Linked DNA regions of Homo sapiens: region 2 is linked to region 1. The links come from fine-mapping of genetic effects on gene expression. Tissue or cell type: whole blood. Region 1 holds a variant in brackets; the other region holds the start of a gene. All regions are shown on one strand. Distances are between the middles of the regions.

Region 1 (8,105 bases):
ACTCAGCAGCATAAAGGAGCAAACTACTCATAGATGCAATAACCTAGATGAGTCTCAGACATTATGTTGAGCTGAAGAATCCAGGCACAGAATAATCCATGCCATAGGATCCCATTTTTAAACAGTCTAAGAACAGGCAATGAAGCAATGGTGATAGAAATCAGGACAGCAGTTGCCTCTGGGTGTCAGAGGCTTAACTGCAAAGTCACTAGAGAACTTTCTGGGGTGATGGAAATGTTTTATATCTTTGTTACCAGTGGAGTATGTTCAGGTTCTTGGTGTCTTGAACAAAGAATTGGACAAAATGCACAAACAAAGCAAGGAAAGAATGAAGCAACAAAAGCAGAGATTTGTTAAAAATGAAAGTACTCTCCACAGGCTGGGAGCAGCCCAAGCAAGGGGCTCAAGAGCCTGGTTACAGAATTTTCTAGGGTTTAAATACCCTCTAGAGGTTTCCTATTGGTTACTTGCTGTAAACCCTATGTAAATGAAGTAGTGGCCCATGATCAGTCCGATTGGTTGTGGGAGGGGACTAATCAGAGGCTGAAGTGAAGTTACAAAGTTATACCCTATGCAAACGTCTGATTCGTTGCAGAAAGCAACCAATCAGAGGCTGAAGTGAAGTTACAAAGTTATACTCCTGTGCAAATGAAGACTTGGCCCATAACCAGCCTGATTGTTTGCAGGAGGGGACCAATCAGAGGTACTTCCAATTTTTCATCTGCCATGCAGAAAAAGGGAGCAGGTCGGGGGGGGGGCGGTGGTGTTGCAAAGGGAGTACCCTCTGGTCCTTTTATTACTTGGGCATGGAAAGTTGGGGCTTTCCTTTTGATTTAGTTCTAGGAAGTCAGCATGAATTGGCCTTAGGTTCCCTGCCTCCAGTCCCTCTTCTGCCTCATCTTGATTGGGTTGGTGGTTCTTTTCAAATTCATCAAACTGTATGCTTAAAATGTGTGTATTGTATATAAATTGTGCATCTTTTTTTTAAAGTACTAGAGAAAAAAGACTTCTTTGGAAGTGGTGTGGAGAAGGCTGAAAGAGGGGATTGAGACTAGACATGGGGAGACTGTAATAATGCAGCTGAAAAATTTTAAGGCTAGAATTTAAGAAGTGGCAGTGGGGATGGAGAAAGGGGATGAATTTCTAGATTGAGATGATAGAATTGATAAGGCTTAAGTGATTAGAGAAGAGGAAAGAGTTAAGAAAATTTGGGGTTATACCCTTTGGTAGTATAGGTATATTTGGTGAAAATTGGTACACAGGTTTTAGGGGGAGATTTTTGGTGGCAGTAGATGAGTTTCAAAAATATTGAGGTAGTTGCACATCTGGGCATCTACATGTCCAGTGGACAGAACTAACAGCTATGGGTCTGAGACTCTGGGAGAGTCCTGGGCTGGAGATAAGGACCTGGAGTCATCAGGAGGTAGGCATCGTTGAAATAATCATGAATGAGAGAGTGTATGGATTAAGCAGAGACAAGAGCTAAAAACAGAACCCTGGAAACCTTGACATTTAAAGGGCAGTAGGGAACACACAGCCCTTGAAGGAATCCTGGGAGACCTTAAAATGTCACATCATAGAAGCCAAAGAAGGGAAAAGTGATTAAACAAATGTGAGGGGCTGATGTCAAATGCTGTAGAAGTCAAGTCAAAAAGAACTGCTCCCTCACCACTCCATCTCTCCTAAGCCCCCCTCAAACCTCAGCAGCTCCTTTCTCAGGCTACTGGAATGTCTTTTCCTGAAGGTGCACAGAGACTTCCAAGTCTCCAGATCCAGTGATCTATTCACAACCTTATCTCTTACAACTTCTTTGCAACAATCAAATAGCTTCTTGAAATTTTCTCCTAGGCTTTTGTGACTACAGGGTCCTTGTTACCCTCAAAGCACCCTCAGCATGGCTCTTCTTCCTGCCTCCTGAACATAATCTTTCCCCAAAGTCCTGTCCTCTTTTCTTCCTCAACATCCACTGAAGTGTCTTCTAGTGGTTAGACCTATGCTAGGTGCTGATGATACCAATATGTAAAACATAAGCCTGGCTTTTAAGAGGTTGATGGCATAGCCATAGAGGAAGATGAAAATAGATGGCAATAAGACAGTGTGATGAAAAGTTATTAGCAGGGTACTCTGGGAGTGTACAGGGAGCAACTGGGCCTGAAGAAGTTAGGAAAGAAACAGTAAATAGAAAAGCATCAGCCAGGCATAGTGGCTCACACCTACAATCCTAGCACTTTAGAGGCCAAGGCAGGAGGATCCCTTGAGCCCAGGAGTTCGAGACCAACCTGGGCAACAGAGGGAGACCTTGTCTCTATTGAAAAGAAAAAAAGAAAATAAAGTGGTTGGGCCCAGTGGCTCACACCTGTAATCCCAGCACTTTGGGAGGCCAGGGTGGGTGGATCATGAGGTTAGGAGATCGAGACCATCCTGGCTAACACAGTGAAACCCCATCTCTACTAAAAAATACAAAAAATTAGCCAGGCGTGGTGGCAGGCGCCTGTAGTCCCAGCTACTCGGGAGGCTGAGGCAGGAGAATGGCATGAACCCGGGAGGCGGAGCTTGCAGTGAGCTGAGATCACGCCACTGCACTCCAGCCTGGGCTACAGAGTGAGACTCCATCTCAAAAAAGGGAAAAAAGGCGGGGCATGGTGGTTCACGCCTGTAATCCCAGCACTTTGGGAGGCCAAGGTGGGTGAATCACTTGCAGTCAGGAGTTCAAGAGCAGCCTGGCCAACATGGTGAAACCCCGTCTCTACTAAAAATACAAAAAGTAGCCAGGCATGGTGGCACATGCCTGTTACTCCAGCTATTCAGGTAGCTGAGGCATGAGAATCGCTTGAACCTAGGAGACAGAGGTTGCAGTGAGCCGAAATCGTGCCACTGCACTCCAGCCTGGGCAACAGAGCAAGACTCTGTCTCAAAAAAAAAAAAAAAAAAAAAGAGGAAAAAGAAAAGCATAGAGTCTTCAAGAGGAAGTATTACAGGTGTGAGCAGGGGCCGTGATCTTCAGAAGTTTCATTTATTTATTTATTTATTTAGAGATGGAGTCTCGCTCTGTTGCCCAGGCTGGAGTGCAGTGGCGTAATCTCGGCTCACTGCAACTGCCGCTCCGGGTTCATGCCATTCTCCTGCCTCAGCCTTTCAAGTAGCTGGATCTACAGGCGCCCGCCACCACGCCCGGCTAATTTTTTTGTATTTTTAGTAGAGACGGGGTTTCACCGTGTTAGCCAGGATGGTCTCGATCTCCTGACCTTGTGATCTGCCCGCCTCAGCCTCCCAAAGTGCTGGGATTACAGGCTTGAGCCACCGCGCCCAGCCCAGAAGTTTCTTATAGCTGAATTGTAGAATTCGTGGGGTTGAAGGGTGAGAGGGAAGGCTGGAAATGGAAATGGGGAGAGATAAATTGCAAAAGGTTGTGTATGATACTAATAAGTTTAAACATTCTGTGAGCAGGAGGGAGCTAGCTAGGGTCTTAAATAGGGCAAAGATATGGTCGTGC[G/A]TTTTTTGTTTTGGGATGATCACTAATTGAATGAAGGATGTACCGACAGGAGAGGCAAGGGCACAGGCGAGGGCAGAGGGGCAAGTTGGGAGTTGTTTCAGTAATCCAAGTGAGAAATAATGAGGATCTGAATTAGGGTAGCAGTGAGACTAGAGAAGATGATGAAACTCCAGAGACATTTCTGAGAGATTTGAGAGGATTTGGCAACTGGTTGGGGGCTGTGAAAGAGGGAAAGATTAAGGATGACTCCCATGGCTCTTAACTGGGAAGATTTGGGTGGATGGTAACTTCACAAGACAAAATAAAAACCACGAACATGGAAACAGCCTTTGGATGGAGGTAAGATAATCAGTTAAGATTTGGATAGACTAATTTTGAAATTCGTGTGTGACATTTAGTGCTTTATGTCATCAGATAGTTGGTGGCTGAAATCATAGTGCTAGATGAGCTATTTCAGAAAGCCCATTTATGAGAAAGACCGTCAGTGGGTAGAGATGGGACATCAGAGAATATCAGTATTGAAAGATTGGGAAGAGAGCCGGGCATGATGGCTCACTCCTATAGTCCCAGCACTTTGGGAGGCTGAGGTGGGTGGATTGCTTGAGGCCAGGAGTTCAAGACCAGCCTGGCCAACATGACGAAACCTTGGCTCTACTAAAAATACAAAAATTAGCCAGGCATGGTGGTGCACACCTGCAATCCCAGCTGCTCAAGAGGCTGAGGCAGGAGGATCACTTGAACTTGGGAGGTGGAGGTTGCCGTGAGCCAAGATCACACCACTGCACTCCAGGCTGGGTGACAGAGAAAGACTCTGTCTCAAAAAAAAAAAAAAAAAAAGAGAAAAAGAAAAAAGTTGGGAAAAGAATGCAGAACCTCAAAGGAAACAAAAAGAGAGGAAAAGGGCAAAGGATGCACAGTGTCCCAAGAACCAAGGGAACTGAGAGTTTTAAGAATCAGAGGGTTATCAACAGTGTCAAATTCTACAATAAATGGGTAGGGTTAAAAGTGTCCACGGGATTTGGGAGCTAAAACAATCTGAGCTCATAGAAGTAGAGAGATTAGAATTGTGACTATTAGAAGCTGGGAAGGGTGAGGAAGAGGGTAGGACAGGGAGAGGTTGTCTAACAGATACAAAATTACAGCTAGATGGATGGAATAAGTTATAGTATTCTATAGTACTGGGGGGTAAATATGGTTAACAGTAATCTATTGTATATTTTCCAAAAGCTATAAGACAGTATTTTAATATTCACAACACAAAGAAATGATATATGTTTAGGTGATGGATATGCTAATTACCCTGGTTTAATCATCACACATTGTATACATGTATCAAAATATCACTGTGTATCCTATACATATGTACAATTACATGTCAACTAAAAATAAAAGGGAAAAAAGTGTCCACTGGGTTTGGTAATTAGGAGATCCTGGCTAACATATCAAGATCATTTTTATTGGAGTGTAGTGAAAGCCATAGTGTTGAAGTGAGAGGAAAAAAATGGAGAAGGCATGATGCAGACCAAATTGCTTTCAGACATGTAGAGACTCAGAAGATTTTTCTATATAATTTTACTGAAAAAAATTACTTGAGGGTGTACTCCAGCAAAGATAAAAGGAACTCAACAAAGAGGAAGACATGGGACCTCAGAAAAAAAATGGAGCCAGGCCAGGATGACAGTTATGCAGCAGACCCACAGAGTAATGTGTCTTAAATTGACAGTTTAAGGGCCGGGAGTGGTGGCCCATGCTTGTAATCCCAGCACTTTGGGAGGCTGAGGTGGGAGGATATCTGGAGCCCAGGAGTTCGAGGCTGCAGTGAGACATAATTGCACCACTGCTCTCCAGCCTGGATGACAGAGTGAAACCCCATCTCAAACAAAACAAAACAAAAATTATCAATTAACAGAAAATTTGGGGATCTTGATGATCTTTCATAAAATGGAGAAAACATTTATTTCTGCTTCCTGTTTCTACTTTCTATAAGAAGTAGGCAATGAGAAACCTCAGAAGGATAAAGAAAAACCTATGGAGGCTGGGCGCAGTGGCTCACACCTGTAATCCCAGCACTTTGGGAAACTGAGGCGGGAGGATCACTTGAGCCCAGGAGTTCAAGACCAGCCTGGGCAACATAGTGAAACCCTATTTTGAAACAAAAAATACAAAAATTATCCTGGTGTGGTGGCACATCCCTATGATCCCAACTACCATGGTGGCTGAGGCAGGAGGATAGCTTGAACCCAGGAGGTCAAGACTGCAGTGAGCACTGATTATGCCACTGCACTACAGCCTGGCAACAGAGCAAGACCCTGTCTCAAAAGAAAAAGAAAAGAAAAGAAAAGAAAAACCTATGGCAAAAGTCATGGATCAAATATGAAGCAGGCTAAAATATAGTATCATGTTGAGCGATATGATAGAGTATAAGAAAAAAAGAAATCTGTATACTTGAACTTTCTCTATCCAGCAACATGGATATAATGAAATAGTACTATATCCCTTTCTGTCCTGATTTAACCACACTACCTGATTCTGCAGTGAATATACTGTAATTATAGTATAAATGCTGCTTATTGGTCTTCATGTTTTAGATTCAGTTTAAGAGCAATTTCCCAAAGCATGCTAAACTTTGTATAGTTTCAGAACAGAACACAAATTATTTAAAGCTCAACATGTAACAAAATATTGGTACAGCTAATCAAAGTTGGCATGTTGAGAAGGATATTAATAATCCAATAGCTGGGCGTGGTGGCTCATGCCTGTAATCACAGCACTTTGGGAGGCCGAGGCGGGCGGATCAGCTGAGGTCAGGAGTTTGAGACCAGCCTGGCCAACATGGCGAAACCCCGTATCTACTAAAAATACAAAAATTAGCCGGGCTTGGTGGTAGGTGCCTGTAATCCCAGCTACTCTGGAGGCTGAGGCAGGAGAATTGCTTGAACCCGGGAAGCGGAAATTACAGTGAGCTGAGACTGTGCCACTGCACTTCAGCCTGGGCAACAGAGCAAGACTCCATCTCTAAATAAATAAATAAATAATATAGCTAATAGTCACTGAATCTATACTATGTTCTAGTCAGTATTCTAAGCCTTTTATGGGTTATTGAATTCATGACAATGCTATGAGTTAGGTGCTTTTTTTTTTTTTTTTTTTTTGAGACTGAGTCTCGCTCTATCACCCAGGCTGGAGTGCAGTGGCACACTCTCGACTCACTGCAACCTCTGCCTCCCAGGTTCAAGTGATTCTCCTGCCTCAGTCTCCTGAGTAGCTGGGATTACAGGCGTGCACCACCACACCCAACTAATTTTTGTATTTTTAGTAGAGACGGGGTTTCACCATATTGGTCAGGCTGGTCTCGAACTCCTGACCTCGTGATCCACCCGCCTCGGCCTCCTAAAGTGCTGGGATTACAGGCGTAAACCACCGTGCCCAGCCAGGTGCTATTTTTATTTATTTATTTATTTATTCTTTTTTTTATTATTATACTTTAAGTTCTGGGATACATGTGCAGAATGTGCAGTTTTAATTACATAGGTATACACGTGCCATGTTAATTTGCTGCACCCATCAACCTGTCACCTACATTAAGTATTTCTCCTAATGTTATCCCTCCCTCTAGCCCCCCACCCCCCAACAGGCCCTGGTGTGTGATGTTCCCCTCCCTATGTCCATGTGTTCTCATTGTTCAACTCCCACTTATGAGTGAGAACATGCGGTGTTTGATTTTCTGTTCTTGTGATAGTTTGCTGAGAATGATGGTTTCCAGCTTCATCCATGTCCCTGCAAAGGACATGAACTCATTCTTTTTTATGGCTGCATAGTATTCCATGGTGTATATGTTATTGATGGACATTTGGGTTGGTTCCAAGTCTTTGCTATTGTGAATAGTGCTGCAATAAACATACGTGTGCATGTGTCTTTATAGTAGCATGATTTATAATCCTTTGGGTATATACCCAGTAATGGGATTGCTGGGTCAAATGGTATTTCTAGTTCTAGATCCTTGAGGAATCACCACACTGTCTTCCACAATGGTTGAACTAATTTACACTCCCACCAACAGTGTAAAAAGCATTCCTGTTTCTCCACATCCTCTCCAGCATCTGTTGTTTCCTGGCTTTTTAATGATCGCCATTTTAACTGGTGGGAGATGGTATCTTATTGTGGTTTTGATTTGCATTTCTCTGATGACCAGTGATGATGAGCATTTTTTCATATGTGTGTTGGCTGCATAAATGTCTTCTTTTGAAAAGGGTCTGTTCATATCCTTTGCCCACTTTTTGATGGGGTTGCTTGTTTTTTTCTTGTAAATTTGTTTAAGTTCTTTCTGGGTTCTGTATGTTAGCCCTTTGTCAGATGCATAGATTGCAAAAATTTTCTCCCATTCTGTAGGTTGCCTGTTCACTCTGATGATAGTTTCTTTTGCTGTGCAGAAGCTCTTTAGTTTAATTTGATCCCATTTGTCAATTTTGGCTTTTGTTGCCATTGCGTTTGGTGTTTTAGACATGAAGCCTTTGCCATTGCCTATGTCCTAAATGGTATTGCCCAGGTTTTCTTCTAGGATTTTTATAGTCCTAGGTCTTATGTTTAAGTCTTTGATCCATGTTGAGTTGAT
Region 2 (8,105 bases), 250 kb before region 1:
ATCCATCTCAAAAAAAAAAAAAAGAAAAAAAAAGTGATGACTTTTGTCCAGGCGCGGTGGCTCACGCCTGTAATCCCAGAATTTTGGGAGGCCAAAGCGGGCAGATCATGAGGTCAGGAGATCGAGACCATCCTGGCTAACATAGTGAAACGCTGTCTCTAGTGAAAATACAAAAATTAGCTGGACACGGTGGTGCATGCCTGTAGTCCCAGCTACTCGGGAAGCTGAGGCAGGAGAATCACTTGAACCCAGGAGGCAGAGGCTACAGTGAGCTGAGATTGTGCCACTGCACTCCAGCCTGGTGACAGAGCGAGACTCCATCTCGAAAAAAAAAAAAAAGTGATGCCTCTCACCAAATGAAACTATTATACTATAGTCTGTGGCATGGTATTTCAGGGCTCAAAATCTGATCAAAAGTAATATCTCAACTTTATCTTTCTCTTGGCCCCTTGCTGTACTCTACAATCAAATGGGCTCTTGAATATCCTCTGAATATGGCCCTACTTTCATGCAAATAATTCATGGAATTAGTTTCTTCCTCCCCTGAAATGTAGTTCAGTAGTTTGAACCTCATATCACATATGATCTGATGTTGTCTTTACTTGTCTGTGTAAGACTATGGTGACTCCCCAGCAACCATTCCATCCCAGCAGGTTGGAAATCCAGAGTAATCCCATCTACTTCTCTGTGATTGGTTAGGGGTGGGCATGTGACACACTTCTGGCCAAGGACACACTAAGGGAAGTCTGCTGGGAAGATTCTTGGAAAGCTTCCCATGTGTTAGAAGGAAACATAGAAGAAAATGTCCTTTCTGCCTCTGGATATTTTCATGTCTGGATGTGAACTGCAAGAACAGCTACAGCCACCTTGCTCTCAACCCAACAAAAGAGATGGAAAGAATTTGGACTTTTGATGACATGAAAGCTCAGGTCAACCAATCCTGGAGACTGTTCTGTCTTTGGACTTCCTATTATGTGAAGTAATTTATTTCCTTATTGTCCAAGGCAGATTAAATCACAGTTTTCTATTATTTGCAGCCAAAAGCATCAGGAAACAATATTTTGTTTTTGATGCTAAATGTTAAGCTTCTTAAAATCAGGGACTGTATCTATGTATCTTTCTAGCCCTCTTACAGCTTGGCATGCAGCAGATGGATGCTCAAAAAGCGACTGTGAAATTAATATTTGTATATATTTCTGGGATACAACTAGTAAAAACACTTGCAATTTAAAAAGCTCTATTTTCTCACAGCAATCTAGAGGTAACAAAATAAAGCTTAGACAGATTAAATAGCTTGTTTAGGGAATTTTGTTTCTCGAAGTCATACCAACTTCTCAAGAGTTTGTTGCTCTTTGTCTCAAATCCTTATCTGGGAATGCCATGCCTGTTAGGGTCCCAAGAAACTGGGGACTGAAGGAAAAATAAAGTGGCAAGCCACTTCTGTGCTTAACCCAGCAATAATGCTAATACAGTAGCCTAGTTGTTTCTGGCTCAGAACCCAGGCCTGGAACCCCTTCTTCTCCCAGTCCCAGTGTATAGTGTGGTAGCTCTAGTGCTGGGGTCATGAATCCCCATAAGTACAAAATTTTAGATGCAGAAGTATTTTCCTGGGAAGATGGATCATAGCTTTTATTAGATTCTCAAAGGGGTCTGTGAGAATCTTAGTCTTCTTAAAGGCTAGATAGAAGTTGGGGTAGAAGATGGTAGAAGTTGGGGCATGGCCAGGAAAAGTTAGGGCTGGTTTGAATGATAAGAGACTGAATTTGTAGGCTGTGGGGAGCTACTAACTTACTGAGGTAAATTGGAAAAGTTTATTTGTCTTCTTAAAGGCTAAGGACTATAACATGATACAAAATCTCAGAAGTAGATGGAAATAAAAACTTTCAGTAGACTTAATGTGTCCCTGTGTTGTTCTGTATTTTGTCATCTAAGGGGACCAGTAGCCCAGGGATCTCTTGTAGATTAGGAAGAAAGAGACAGGTGTCAGGGTTGGGTAACTCTAGGTAAGACTGGAAAAGGAAAATGCGGAGCCCCTTTCTGAAAAATTACGAATTTCAAAATGGCGACACCAGAATATTAAACCAAGCTCGAAGCCCTTCTAAGCTGGGAGCACTGTGCAACTACATAGGTTGGACGCATATGCAGCTGGTCCTGCCTCTTGCACTTACGATTGCACACACTATTGTCTGCCAAATTGGGATGTATTCCTTTGGACTGCTATCCAGACCTTTATTCATTTTTTGAGCACCTACAATGTGCCAGGAATTGTGCTAGTGGTGGGGATTCCAGATAAGAGCGAGCATTCAATTCAATCATATCGGGTTTCTACTATATAACAGGTCTTGTTCTAGGTCCTGGGGATACAGCTCTGAACACATTAACACGGGGCAGAGACAAGGAATAAATGGGTTAAAGATCAGATAGTGACAGGTGCCCAACAAAAACTTAGCACAGGACGATGTGACACAGGGTGACTATTTGAAATGGGTTGTGGTGGGGGGTGCCGGAGATGATATTTGAGCTATGAGTTTAGTGAAAATAGTGGGCAGCCCTAGCTCCATGGGGGTGTGGGTGGGGAGGGTTATCTTAAGCTTGGGAAACAAGGCAAAATAAGGAAAGGGGGGAGAGAGAGACTATATACGGCAGAGTGAACACAGGTGGTAGCTAAGGGAAGGGATGAAATCATGGGACACCTCCAGGCAACAGCCTCCAGGGGCTAAACCATCGTCTTGGGTAAATGGATGGTTTGAGAGCAAAGGCGGGAGCAGCGAGTCCGGTGAGAAGGTCCTCACAGGAACCCAGGCTGGTGAGAAGGTCCTCACAGGAACCCAGGCTAGCGAAGCGGTGGCTCGGACTAGGGTGAAAGTAGCGGAGGTAACGCTGGGTGAGCCGCACCCGCGTCTCCCACGAGGTCCCCCCAGTGAGGTTAGCGGGTGCCGCGCCGAGCGCCAAGCTGAGGAGCCGCCCCCAGGGGCTGGCGCTAGTCTGCAGCGGCGCCGACGTGGCCGGCGCGATCCGCCACGCACGTGTCCGGCTCCAGGCCGGGGGCGGGGGCGCGCGGGGGTCTCCGGCTCCTCCCCGACTTCTGGGGCCCGGGCGCCAGCTGGCCCCGAGCCTCCAGTCCGCGGGTGCGAAGAACGGAGCAGATGGGTCGGGAACAAGGGAGCTGGGTCAAGGCGAGGAGGGGGCGGCCGGGCGCGCGCGCTCTGGCCTCGTGCACGCGCTGAAACCGGAGCGCGCAGGGCGCGCCAGGGTGAGGGGGACGGGGGCGGGGTGGGGGCAGCCCTTTCCCAGGCGGTAGCGGGGGCGGCGTCGCTGTTGCCCTTTTAAGCCGCGGGGCCGCCGCCTCCTGCCGCTGGAGTCGGTTACAAAGGAAGCGCCACCCAGGCCGCCACACGCCGAGGCTTCCGCGCCCCTCGCCATTTTCCAGCAGCGCTCGACGAGGCGGAGCCGCGAGAGCGCGGCCCAGGCCGGCCCCGCGGGGCGGTCGCGGCCGTGACGGCGGCTCCGGGCCCGGCTCCCCTTCCGCGCCCGGCTCCCCTTCCGCGCCCCTCCCGCCGGAGATGAGGGGAAGATGTCCGTGTCAGGGCTCAAGGCCGAGCTGAAGTTCCTGGCGTCCATCTTCGACAAGAACCACGAGCGATTCCGCATCGTCAGTTGGAAGCTGGACGAGCTGCACTGCCAGTTCCTGGTGCCGCAGCAGGGCAGCCCGCACTCGCTGCCGCCGCCACTCACGCTCCACTGCAACATCACGGTGAGGCGCCCGGCCGCGGCCCCGCGGGGCAGGGCGAGGACGGAGAGGGGGCGCTTCGAGTCCCGGGACAAAGGGGAGCCTGCCCCGGAGAGGCTCCGGCTCCCCGGGCGGGGCAGGCCCGCCCCTTTCCCCCGCGACTTGCCCATCCCAGGCCGGGCTGGGACTGCGCGAGGCTTGGGTGGGAGGAGGCGGAGGGCGCGTCTTTCCGGCTTCTCGCCAGGGGCTGGCTTGGGGGCTTCTGGCCCATCTCGGTCCCCGTCTCCTAGCCCCGAGGGGGGAGTCCGCGGCGGCCCAAGCCCTTGTGGGGTCCATGGCCGCCCTCAGCCGGCCTGCTCCCGGGACCGGGGCGGGGCGGGGCGGGGCGGCGCAGCTCCGGCTGTTGTTTGAGCCCAGGCCGGCAAGGGGAACGGCCCTTAAGTTTTAACGCCTCATTTTTCAGTCGGATTTTCCTTCTTCCCGCTTGTTCAGCCAATTGTTTTTAAGTTTGCGTTTAAGGAGAAACTGACAATGAGAATGGACTCGTTGACGGAGGAAAAGTTGGAATGCAGACTCTGGTGCTGTTTGAGCGACCCCTCTCCCCCGGGCCTGGCTGCGCGCTGCTGTGTTCTGGAAAGGAGCATAGTACCGTCGTTGCGGCAGGTGGTGTTGAGTGTGTATTCGTGTGGCCCCTCCCTTGTGTGTAAGCCTCGAAAATGGATAGGTGAAAGGAGATACGCGCCAGGGCTGCTCCCCGGAAAGATCACGTATGTCACAAAGCCGAAAAGACACTTTTAAAAACTCACTCATTAAGCGGAAATCTCATTAGAAACCCAAGGCTTGGTAAAGGAATTGAAGTATTAAGTTTCTCCATAAAAGTGTATCGTGAAGCTATTCGTCGTGAAATTGATGTAGGATATTGGTCCAAACTGCAGAATATTCTCTTGGTTATAATAGGCGTCAAGGTGGTGGCTTCGGGCTCCTTTTCAAACATGGCTAAAACCAAGTCTTGTTTTTAACTCCCTTTGGTTGAGTCAGTGGGTACTCAAGTGCCTGCAGGGTGGCTGGCGTTTGCAAAAACCTTGATGTTATAATTGACCTTAAAATGGTTACCAGACTATCTGGGCAGAAGGTGTGTTAATTTCAAAAAAAAAAAGACAAGTGCTGTACTGAGGAGATAATTCATTTATTGAATGAATACGTCTGAGTGTTCTGGGCACTAGTGTTGCAGAATTGAGTGAAGTCGTCCTCGCTCTCAGAACTCAGTCTTCTTGGGGGAAGAGTTCAATAAGGTGACAGCTCCTGTGGTATCATCAGGAAAGCCAAAGCAACTAATTTTGACTTGGGGGAGGTGCGCTTCAGGGAAGGCTTTGATGAGAGGCTGAGACAGTTAGAGATGAGCTTCCACAGGTGACTACAATTTTGGAAGGCTGGCGGAAGGGCATTTTAGACTGAGGAAACTCCACCCAAAGAAGACACGGAGATTTGAGAAAGTGTGGTTTCCTTAGAAGTAGAAAATTTATGCTAAGACTTGAGAAGCCCACGATACAGGCTGGAGAAGGGGAGGATTTTCCAAGAGTGGAAAACAGAAAGTGTAGTAGTTGTCATGAAGCAGGTGTTTTAAGGAGACGGGCCTGAATGGCTTCGAGGGTGATTACTCTGGTAGAAGTTGGGGCATGGCCACGAAAAGGTAGGGCTGGTTTGAATGATAGGAGACTGAATTTGTAGGCTGTGGGGAGCTACTAAGTTTACTCAGGTAAGTTGGGAGAATGTATCTTTCATCCAGGATTAGAAATGGTTCTCTACAGTGGGTGGCATTAGGAAATGTGGTTATCCCAGTGGGGGTGGGGTGGTCTTATTGCTGTGCCGGCATTTAGTGCTAGGAGTACAGGGATACCAAATGTTTTGCAACGTTCAGGCAGTCTGCCACAGCAAAGAATTATCCCACCTAAAGTGCCACTGGTGCCCCATCGAGAACCATATTGAAGGCTGGTAAGAGTCTGCTGCAGATAAAAATAAGGAGTGATGACCTGGATTAGGCAGTGGCAACAGAAATGGAGCAAGAAGTGAATGAGACACTTTCAGTACAAGGAGGATTTAGTGAGGACTAGTGTAATGGCACCCACCGCTAGGTAGAAACTATTAAAATTGACTTGCTAGTGAAATATGACAGACTATCAGGAGATAATTATCATGGCAGCTGCTCAGTACAAATGTCTGCTAACTTTTTATTATGGAAAATCATCAAATGTACAAAAGTTGAACAGTGTAATGTAGCCAGCCTCAACAATGATAAACTTTTGGCTAATCTTCATCTGTACTCCACTTTAGATTATTTTGAAGCAGATTCCAGACAGATCACTTCATCTGTAAATATTTCTGCTTGTATCTTTTGAAGGTAAAAGACTCTTTTATTTTTTATTATTATTTTTTGAGACGGAGTCTCGCTGTGTCGTCCCAGCTGGAGTGCAGTGGTGTGACCTGGGCCCACTGCAACCTCCGCCTCCCAGGTTCAAGCAATTCTGCTGCCACCGCCTCCCGAGTAGCTGGGATTACAGGTTTCCGCCGCCACACCCGGCTAATTTTTGTGTTTTTAGTAGAGACGGGGTTTCACCATGTTGGCCAGGCTGGTCTTGAACTCCACCTCAAGCTCCCAAAGTGCTGGGATTACAGGAGTGAGCCACCGTTCCTGGCCGTAAAGACTCTTTTAAACATGGATGACTGTTTTGATAAAATGACATGGCTTGTTCATGTCGATACCATTTGCTTAGAAGGGAAAGATCAAGGGAAAAATGGGGTTGGATTTCAAATGATTTGGTTTGATCGATGATTTGTTATTCTCTAAAGTTGTAACTCTGGAAAAGGTAATGAGTTTGACTTATTCTTTAACTTTTCCTCTTTAGACAGTTCAAATATTTGAATTCTACATGCTAGGACTTGTTTTCTTTATACTTACCAAGAAACATCCTTATGCAGTTTCTCTAATGTTTGAGAAACTAAGTTGTTTTTTACACACGTGCATGCTAGTTCCTGAAGAGTCCTGTACAGGTGCTCTGCTGGCTTTTCCTTTCAGGTTTCTGTATCAGCTGTATTTCTCCCTGTAGAATGTGCCCCTGACCTCCACCCCTTAACCTTACCCCATTTGTCTTTATATGCCTGACCATCCGTCAAGGCTCTTCTGGGTCATATTTAGTTCATGCTGTTATTTCCCCTTCCTCCCTTCTTTAGTCCTTACTATTTTTGCTTTGGTCATGTTTTCTTATGCTGTATTCTGTAAGCCTTTAAATTTTTCTTTTTATGGTGGCAGGGGAGAATATTTTATAATTATGCTTTGTGCTTTTTATCTTCCACTCAATAAATGCTTCATAAATATTTGAGTATATAGCGCTATTCTAGCTGTATTGTATTTGAACAAAAATCTTAACTGCCTTGTAAGTTAACTGCTAAGAATTTGTCAAAAGTGCAGAGATAACATCAATAACTTGTCATGGATAGTACAAAAAGGTCTCTAAGGGCTTGATGGAAGTCTGTAAATTGACTTCATATGAGAGTGTAAGAAGTGAAAAAGACCAAAACAGAGTAGATGTTTTACTCTGTAGGCCAAGGGAATTGAGCTAATTCTTTTCCTGTTTTATAAATTTGTCCTGATCTTAAATAATGAAGGGAAAAGAGTGCTCTTTTTCAACCTCGAGTCCTTTTTATTCTTTTCTGTGAAGCCATGATATGAAAGATTGCCTGTTATACAAACTTAAGTATAGTTTTTCCATCTTCAGTAAACTAACCTGATTGCCGTCTAATTAGTTGTTACAATCACACCGAAATGCAAAGCAGCTTGTTTTAAGCAGCCTTATTGGGAGCTAGTATATGGCTTTAGTCGTTTTGAAGTATTTAACATAACTTGGCAACTCCATTACTCCTTTTATGGACTTTTTGGCATCTGGGCATTCTTGGTAGGAAATCACTGTTTTAGAATGAAAAATCTCCCCCAGGAAGTAAATTAGCTAGTAAACAAATGAAACTTCATTTTTTATATTACTTGTAGAGCATAAATGATTACCCTTTCTGCGTATAAGTGGCTGTTTGCTAGGCTGCTTTTAGTGGGACTTTGTTTTTGATTGGTTAATTAAATTTCTATTCATTATTGCCAAAAAGTGCCTACCCCCAACAGCAAGATACTAAATTTTAAAAATGTTGGAGCTGTGAATCTAGGAGGAAGTGAGAAGTTTAGCTTTTATTTAGTAGTTAGGAGCTTAAGTAAGTCACTTCTTTTACTGTGTTTCTGTGTACTATAGATAATATTTTTTTGCACTGCAAGAGAGCATATAGAGGAAAGCTCTTTGGCAATGATATTATGTTCTACAAATATAAAAGCGAT

Evidence for each region. PIP is the estimated chance that this variant, and not a neighbour inherited with it, causes the effect.
Region 2: UBE2Q2 starts here. The variant in region 1 is fine-mapped to the expression of UBE2Q2 in whole blood (INTERVAL, PIP above 0.99).

Annotation. Positions count from the first base shown.
Region 1 is chr15:76,086,181-76,094,285 of GRCh38, forward strand. All of the region lies in intron 1 of TMEM266 (transmembrane protein 266), which reads left to right. Among named protein-coding and RNA genes, the nearest start is that of TMEM266, 30 kb to the left of the region's middle. The variant G/A (reference allele first, on the strand shown) is at 3,494.
Region 2 is chr15:75,840,093-75,848,197 of GRCh38, forward strand. It overlaps UBE2Q2 (ubiquitin conjugating enzyme E2 Q2), which reads left to right and starts at 3,355. Exons shown (of 13, transcript NM_173469.4): 1 at 3,355-3,754. The coding sequence starts at 3,575. RefSeq lists silencers at 2,936-3,115, 3,156-3,295, 3,436-3,515, 3,766-4,165 and an enhancer at 3,437-4,334.